Regions from separate parts of the Homo sapiens genome. Here region 2 is linked to region 1. Evidence: fine-mapped expression QTL. A gene starts in region 1. The other region holds a variant in brackets. All regions are shown on one strand. Distances are between the middles of the regions.

Evidence for each region. PIP is the estimated chance that this variant, and not a neighbour inherited with it, causes the effect. A credible set is the group of variants that fine-mapping cannot tell apart.
Region 2: its variant is the best candidate, but not a certain one, in a credible set for the expression of SRRM2 in whole blood (TOPMed, PIP 0.54).

The regions. Positions count from the first base shown.
Region 1 is chr16:2,750,797-2,755,311 of GRCh38, forward strand. SRRM2 (serine/arginine repetitive matrix 2) reads left to right here and starts at 1,842. Exons shown (of 15, transcript NM_016333.4): 1 at 1,842-2,050. It overlaps SRRM2-AS1 (SRRM2 antisense RNA 1), which reads right to left and starts at 1,804. Exons shown (of 6, transcript NR_027275.1): 1 at 1,646-1,804. RefSeq lists enhancers at 722-1,564, 1,164-1,333, 1,394-1,683, 1,565-2,407, 2,408-3,250 and silencers at 1,864-2,173, 2,194-2,253.
Region 2 is chr16:2,772,634-2,776,633 of GRCh38, forward strand. It overlaps ELOB (elongin B), which reads right to left. Exons shown (of 4, transcript NM_007108.4): 3 at 2,818-2,923. Among named protein-coding and RNA genes, the nearest start is that of ELOB, 2.6 kb to the right of the region's middle. RefSeq lists a silencer at 436-588. The variant C/G (reference allele first, on the strand shown) is at 2,296.

The DNA.
Region 1 (4,515 bases):
CATCATCAGTCATTAGGGTACTGCAAACCATGTTTTGTCACTATTCACGGGCATTAAATGTGCTGACTCACGCACAAAACATTCCATAAAGAATATCAGTGGGGGTACAGGAAAGGGTCTCACTGGAGGTGCTGGGGTCTTTAACCAGAAAGGCAAAGCCTTTGCCACTTTACTATGCCACTCCAGAGTTGCGGCCGGCTTACAGAAGCACCGTCCATAGATGCAGAGTTCAGACACTCCAATCTGCGATCAGAGCTCCTGCAGGAGATGGGGGTGGTGGGGGGGAGGGTCTCCCGGCTCTAGCATCTGAGATAAGTACATCCTCCCACGGGCAAGTGAAAAACAAATCTTAAAGCCGGATACGGGCCGGGCGTGGTGGCTCACGCCTGTAATATCAGCACTTTGGGAGGCTGAGGTGGGCAGATCACCTGAGGTCAGGAAATCGAGACCAGCCTGACCAATATAGTGAAGCCCCGTCTTTACTAAAAATACAAAAATTAGCCAGGCGTGGTGGCACACGCCTGTAATCCCAGCTACTCGGAAGACTGAGACACGAGAATCACTTCAACCTGAGAGACAGGTTGCAGTGAGCCGACAACACACCATTGCACTCCAGCCTGGGTGACAAGTGCGAAACCACGTGAAAAAAGAAAGAACAACAACAACAACAAAAAACAAGGGCCAGATAGGGTGTCATGCACGGGTAGTCCCAGCTACTTGGGAGGCTGAGGTCGGAGGATCGCTTGAGCCCCAAATTCGAGAACAGCCTGGGCAAAACCCTGCCTCTTAAAAACACCCCCAAATCGTAATAACAAATATAAATCCTTGCACTCAAATGGACAGTTCATTACGTGGTACCGCGTCCTGTTGCGGATCAAGGCCACCTGAGTTGGTTAGGACAGCTAAGCGGGACGTCCAGGGCTGCTCGCCAGCGGTGGGTCTAGATATGAACTTGTGCTTGAGCAGCCCAGCGTCTTACAACTCTGCTGTGAGGACGGCTGGCTGATTATCAGGCCCAGAATCACGGGCTTAGAAACATTAACAGGAAGTACGGTACCGAAAAGTGGAAACTTTAAGGTGCTTATTATTTTCCTCCTGCCTTGTTCCTGTATGTGCCGCTTCACCGGTATCACGTCCTGGGTCTGGTGGGACCCCGGCCTGGCTGCCCTACCGGAAGCTAAGAAAACTCCTCCCCCAGGGGTGGCCGTCGGGCCTCAGCCCGGTCTACAGCGGGAGAACGTGGCCCATGCTACGGGTAACTGGTTGGGCCCCTGGTGCAGGTCTAGGGCCTGCAGCCAGGCTCGGGGCCTCCGGGGGTGCCCGCTGGCTGGGGTCTGAGGCGGCTTCTCTCGGGTACGGGAAGGCGGACTGCTGTGCAGCTGCGGGCTCGCTCGGGAAACCCAAAGTCACACGAAAGCGGCAGCACCACCGCGGCTGGGATATCGTCTCCCAACATGGGGAGACAAAATGGCCGCCACGCCCCGAGCCGAAATTACATCCGGGCTCCGCGACACGCCCGAACCACAACTCCCAGAATGCTCTGCATCGACAGCGGGAGACGAGACGCGCTCGGGCGTCGCTTTGCTGCCGCTAGGCCCTGTGCTCCTCCCCGCAGCGGAAGGCCTACGAATACGCGGTGTCTTACGTCGCTTCCTCCGTTCTTCGTTGCACTGGCCAACGGGACGCTTAGTCTTTCGGCAACGGGGTGAAACCTTCCTTGTGCCTGAAAAAACGGTACTTCGCGGTGTGGCTTCGGCGCCTGCGCAAAAGGCCGCGGGGCGCACTCCAGTTCCCGGCAGGCCCCGCGACGCGCGTTTGCGTGCTGACGCACGCAGTTAGTCGTGCTGACGTGCAGCGCGGCCCAGGCGGGGTGCGAGTGGCGCAGTTGGAGCCCGTTGCGGCCCCTGAGGAAGCGAGGAGGCGTCGGCGTCGGCTGAGGCGGGCGGACCGGCGAGGCGAGGCGGCGGCCCCAGGCCCGAGGGACTCGGGAGCTCGAGCAGCGGCGGCGGCAAGACCTCTCCCCCTCGGAGGCGGCGGGCGGAGGCGGCGGGTGAGAGGGTGAGGGAGCCAGCGAGCCGGGTGGGGGAGGGGCGGCGGCCCCGGCGCGAGGCCAAAGCGCGCGGAGAACTGCCCAGGCCGCCGAGCTCCTCCGCGCGCACGCGCGCTCGACGCCCTTCGCTGGCGCGGACGCCCTCGCCTCCCTTCCCCCTTCCCGCCGTTCCTGTCGCGCGCGGGCTTCACCCCCCCCCGCCCCTCCCCCATGACAACGGCGTTCGCAGCCGCCTGTACTCGGGTTCGCGAGCGCCCTTGGTGAGGGGGGAGGGCGCGCGCCTCGGCTTCACTCCTCCCCCCAACATGTGCCGCCGAGGTGGCCTTCCTGCAGCTGCCGTTTTCGGCCCTTAAGTGGCGGGGAAGGGGCGGCGGCGGGGGGCTTGCTCCTGGACCCTTGCCCCCGGTTCCAGATCTCCTTTCCTCGGGCTTCTCTTCGGCGTTGGGCTGCCCGTGTCGGGGGCCTCCCAGACTGCGGGACGCCGCGCAGCCCCCTCCCCCATTCCGCAAGGCCGAAAATAGGCCCCCGGCGCTGCGGGGAGGGCCTTGAACTTCGTGGGCCGGATTTAAATGGTTTAGGATTCCCGGCTATCAGCCTTTGAGTTGTTAGTGGCGGGGAGAAACCCCAAATCTTAAAAACTGTGAAGAAAGTGAACGTGTTCAGTTTACATTTGTAAGGTAGACCGTGCGTTCCCTTTTTACACTTTTTCAACGTCTCCCGAGAATTCGTGTTCAAACTAAGGAGGCTTTTGGAGACCTTCGTTGGGAAGAAAACGCCAGACTCATATATAAGTTTTCTGGTTGGTTTCAGGCGTTCTTTGGCACACAGCTCTTCTGAAGCTTGGTTTCCACTCGGCTTCAGTTAGGACGAATCTGGATCAGAATTTCAGAGTGTTGTGTTGTCTTTCATCCTAAGTGCGTGGGCTTAGGGCTCTTCTAAAGCTACTATTTTAGCTTTCTGGGTTCTTTGTGTCCACTCAGCCGCTCTGGAGCGCCCCGGTGCTGAGCTGGCTGTGCTTGCTGATGTCCATTTTTTTCGACAACCCTTGTCTCCCCTTTTTCTCCCCTTTTGGTACCGTTTTCTTTTTTGCATATTTTACTGTTGAATTCAAATATATCTTTCTACTTCATTGTTAGCTTACCACTCGGATAATTTCCCAACAGAAAAGGGTGTTTTTGTCTTCCTTTGTACTTTTTACTTTCTGCTTTTAACTTGGGTAACTTTTGCATATCCACTGTCTATGGCCCCCACTTTAAGAGTTTTGTAATATCGTTTGGTTTGGTGATTTGTGTGTGGTGTTGATCTTCCTACTTTCTGTGTCTTAACACACCCCTTAGATGCCGTGGGGTCGTCGTCTTTTTTTGTGGGGTGGACTAGGTGGCTCATTCCCTAAAAGTTCTCCGAAACATTGTGACCTAATATCCTTTGCTTAGCACCTACTGGTTTTTCTTTTTTTTTTTTTTCCGAGACGGAGTCTAGCTCTGTTGGCAGGCCGGAGTGCAGTGGCGCGATCTCGGCTCACTGCAACCTTCCGCCTCCCGGGTTCAAGCGATTCTCCTGCTTCAGCCTCTGGAGTTGCTGAGATTACAGGCAATCGCCGCCGCCCAGCTAATTTTTGTATTTTTGGTAGAGATGGAGTTTCACCGTGTTGGCCAGGCTGGTGTCAATCTCCTGATCTGGTGATCCGCCCACCTCGGCCTCCCAAAGTGCAGGTGTTACAGGCGTGAGCCACCGTACCCGGCCTGGTTTTCCTTTCTTAAGGAGTGGGGGGATTTTTGTGTGAGGTGGTATGGAAGTGTGGGTGAATGGTTAAGCTGAAGAATTAAGTGCAGGTCAAAAACATGCTGCAGGGGAAGCAGAAATTAAGTGGGGTAGGGGAGAGGCGAAGAAGGACCTAGTTTTAAACCGTGAGGAGGATTGGTACTAGAAGATGAAAATGAGGATTGGGGTGTAGAGAAATTGATTTTTTGAGCCATACAGTTTTTCATTTTTTCCTGGATTTCTGCTTGCCTTATCCAGGTTTAGCCTCTTCTGTCACCTTCTGCTTTCAATATTGGGTCTGCTACTGGGCTTGGGTAGGGACCCATCCTTAGGCGCATGCGCTAGTATATTTTTCCAAACATTTGTATGATGCTTCTTCATTCTGGAATTTTCTAAATGCATCCTTCCCTTCTATCCAGTTCTTTTACATCTTTGATTACTCTCTCCGCTTTACGTATTCCTTAGGGTTTTTTCTTAGTAGTATTTTCTCATATATGCATGTTCTAGGAAACTATCTTGGAGAGGATGAGGGTGAGAAAGAGAGTATATGTAATAGGAGAAAGGAATAGAGTATGTGTAGCCAAGGAATCTAACCAGGAAAGCTGGGACTTGAGAATTTTTCAGAATCACGTTAGGGTTGGGACAAGTTGAAAGGCTAGAACCTGGGAGGAGGCATGGGGTTAACACAGGAGAGAAGGAAGAGG
Region 2 (4,000 bases), 22 kb after region 1:
CGGGAGGCGGAGCTTGCAGTAGCTGAGATCGCGCCACTGCACTCCAACCTGGGCGACACAGACTCCATCTCAAAAAAAAAAAATCAAACTAGACTATCTAGACTATTCCTCCCCTGCTGAAAACCATCCAGTGGCTTCCCATCATGACCTGAATACCACCAAGTCCTTGCCGTCTGTCTCTCCCTCTGCTTCCCACGCTCTGAGGCTCTGGCTCTCTATGTTCTTCTGTAAGTTCTTTCCTAACTCAGACCTTCGCACTTGCTGGTCCCAGCACTCGGAATGGCTGGCTGCTTCTGGACTTTCAGGGTCCAACTCAGGTCACCTCCTCAGATGAACCTCCAGTCCACGCACCCCCAAAAGTCAAGACATCCTGACACTCTGGGCGTAGGGGCACTTACCACTGGACAAACTGCCCTTTTGACTGGCTCCAGGAAGGCAAAGGCCTTCCCTGTCTTGTCCCTACTGTCACCCCAACACACAGCAAACAAACCCACAGCTTTTCTCCTGTGCTTTCTTCCAGCTAGGAGACCCATCTCTGCTTGGCTCAGGGTTCTCAACTGATCAGGCATCCCAGGGAAAGCTGGAATGCCTGATCACAGTTGTGGCGGTCACAAATGGGGAGGTGGGGTGCCCCAGCGCTATCTAGTGGGTAGAGGCCTGGGATACGGCTCCACGTGCTATGGTGCACAAGGCAACCCACACAGCAATCCAGCCCAATGTGCCCACTGTGCCGAGGTTCAGAAACTAATCCATCTTCCAAGCCACAAACCTGTGACAATTCGTGCCTTCACTACCTCCCTCATTCTTTTGTGATGAGCCGGGACAATGCCCTTTAACATTTGATTTGAAATACTCATCTCCTTGAGTGGTAAGCTTGGGGGAGGGGAGAGGCGGAGGGTGGGGCACCCATTCAAGGCCTGGGAACAACATGATGATGGGTTGAGCTGCACCCAGAAGTGTGTTTCTGCAAGCATTCCATGGGGAAGCAAAGAGCTGACAGCCCATGCTGTGCCCCCTATCAAGACAGCCATCACCTGCAAGAGGGATGATGTGACCTGGGCTCCGGAGTCACCACCACATTCCATGCCATATTAGGGGTTGTGGGAGAAAAACAAGTCACCTTCCTTAGCCTTGATTTTCTCATCTGCAAAATGGGTCTATCAGTATCTTCCAAGTCACAGCAAACCTCTAGGGGTACCACTGTTGAAATTAGAGAAAGGGACACTTCTGGGGGAACACAGCCCAGCTTCGGTTCACGAAGCAGACCAGATATGCTCTTGGCACTCCCTTGCTCTCTTCAGACAGGCACCCCTGGGCCAGGCACCGAGGCTCAGGCCTGTAATCCCAGCACTTTGGGAGGCTGGGATGTATGGATCGCCTGAGGTCAGGAGATTGAGACCAGCCTGACTAACATGGTGAAACCCCATCTCTACTAAAAACACAAAGATTAGCTGGGCGTGGTGGCACATGCCTGTAATCCCAGCTCCTCAGGCCACTGAGGCAAGAGAATCGCTTGAACCCGGGAGGCAGCGGCTGCAGTGGGCTGAGATGGCGCCACTGCACTCCAGCCTAGACAACGGAGTGCGACTCTGTCTCAGAAACAACAACAACAAAAATGCACCCATGTACAAGGCACGACCTGTGTCTATGCCAGCCCTGCACCTGACTCTTAACATCACCATCTGGGCAGAAAGAGCCCACAGAAAGGCTCTGAAGCTTCCCATCTGTTGGGCACTGGCAGCAGGCCAGACCTGGGGTGCATGAGGACTCAACACCACCTTGCTGTGAAGCCAGTCTCATCACACCCCTTTAAGGAGAAGGGAACACTGGGGCCAGGAGGGGCAGGAGGGCAAGGTAGCTGGCCAGAGGATATAGCTGCTGAGACTGAGGCCTAGCCTGAACTTATGGAACGGAAAGGTGGAGCTAGGACTCTACTCTTCCTCTTCAGCCTTTGCTATGTTCCCTTACAGGCAGAAAAATAAGAATTCCTTACAACTTTATCCAAGTTTTCTCAGCCATCCACACAGCTGCTGGGTCCACAGCTGTGAAAACACAGCTCTATAACCTCTCTTCAAGTTCCTAGAGACAAAATATTTTAAATCTCCCCTCCCTTTCTCTTGGGTGGAAGAAGATATCTTGGCGAGTAGTAAACCACTCCCTAATCCCCAGGTTTCTAAAGCTTGGGCAGGGGTGGGGTATGGCTGATGGAAGCCCAGGCTCTGGATCTGAATCCTAGATGTGGCAGTCCCAGCAGATGACCTAACCTCCCCAGGCTCACTTTACTGAACCTGAAAA[C/G]TGGCAAAATCCAAATCTCAGCCACACAGAGATGCAGAGGGTTTCGGTGATACATAGCATAGAGCCTGGTATGATGTCTGACTCCAGCAAGGGCCCGGCAGTCAGCATCCTAACCGTGGCTCCCTACGTGACTGCTGGTAAGCCTGTGTCCTCATCTGCAGAACACGGATGATGGTATGTGGACTTCCCAGGGCTACTGAGAGGATGAGACAGGGCAGTGGAAGCCACACACAGAGTAACATGCAGAGCACGGAGCCAGGCACTCACTCAGCCTCCTGTAAATGTGAGCTGGCTTCACAAAATAAGCTTTGGTTTCTGTAAGCATCTCATTTGGTTGCTTCTTTTTTAAAAAAAAAAAAATGAGGAAACAAACACATTGTGAAAGGATATTGCCAGCCCTTTAGGCACGAGGAAGACACTGCCCTGAAGGCTTCAACTCCAGGCTCCCTGATGACCTTCTTTGGAACAGTGTTCCCAACCTGCTTGGCTACCACCCAGCCCAGTGGGTGGTGGGCCTCTCACCTGCCCGGAAGGCCAGCCCCACTGTGGCTGGGGCCTGTGGCCGTGCTGTTTGACTGGTGAAGCCACACTCGCCCAGTGTCTTGCCATCATCCAAGAGTTGGTCATCCTGAGGAGAGAAGCAGGATCTTGGGAGAGGCCCTACATGGGGCAAGTCCCAAAGACTTCTGACCAGCAACTACACGGGAAGTCAGAGGAGGGAAGAGAGAGTTCCCTCAGTGTGGCCCAGGACCACCACGCTGCTTGACAAATACACAGATTCCAGGGTTATATCCAAGAACTTCTAAATCAAAACCTCCCAGGGTGGGACTTTAGAATCCGGTTTTATCCAAATTCTCCAGGCAAATCTAATTTGAGGAGCCACTGAGCTATCTGGAGATAGGCAGACCTGGCTTTCAATCCCAGCTCTGTCACCCTGGACTAGGCATTTGAACATTTTTTTATTTTAGAGACAGGGTCTCGCTATGTTGCCCAGGCATGCAGTGGCACAGACCCAACATAAGCGCTATCATAGCCCCCTCCAGCTTGGAACTCCTGGGCTCAAGCAATTCTCCTGCCTCAGCCTTCAGAGTAGCTGGGACTACAGGACCATGCCACCACGGCTGGCTGGTAGTTGAGCCTTTTGATGCAAAGTTTCCTCATCTGTAAACTAGGAATTACCAGAATTCTCAATTCGTAGGGCCACCAGAGGGTTTCAATGAGCTAGGAAGAAACATAAAGCACTAAGTAGACATGTGGCACACGGGACATGCACAGGCACGGTCATTTAATATTTGCTAAGTCCCAGTAGTTATGAGTGAGGAAAGGCCTTTAGAGACCATGGGAGCTGAGGCTCTGAGCCTGGAGCTAAAAGTCAGTTTCCCAGTTTCCAGCTCTAGAATCTGAACAATGCACTTGGGCGACAACCTCACAATGTTGGGAGACGTAAATCAGAGGCTGATGCATCTGACTCCCCAATGCAGACCCCAAACCCCAAGCCATTCTGACTGAATAATCTCAGTTCGTTTGCAAGGGGAAAGGGGGGCTTCTAGGACATCAGCAGGAGGTCGGGAGGTAATAACAAACGGTTGCTTGGTGAAGAACGAGTGGGACCTGACTTTCTTTGCATTCACTGAGTTCCCCACCCTCCACCCGAAGGAGTGTCCGGGGGGACAGCGTGATTCCGATGGGCCTGCGAAGAAGGGTG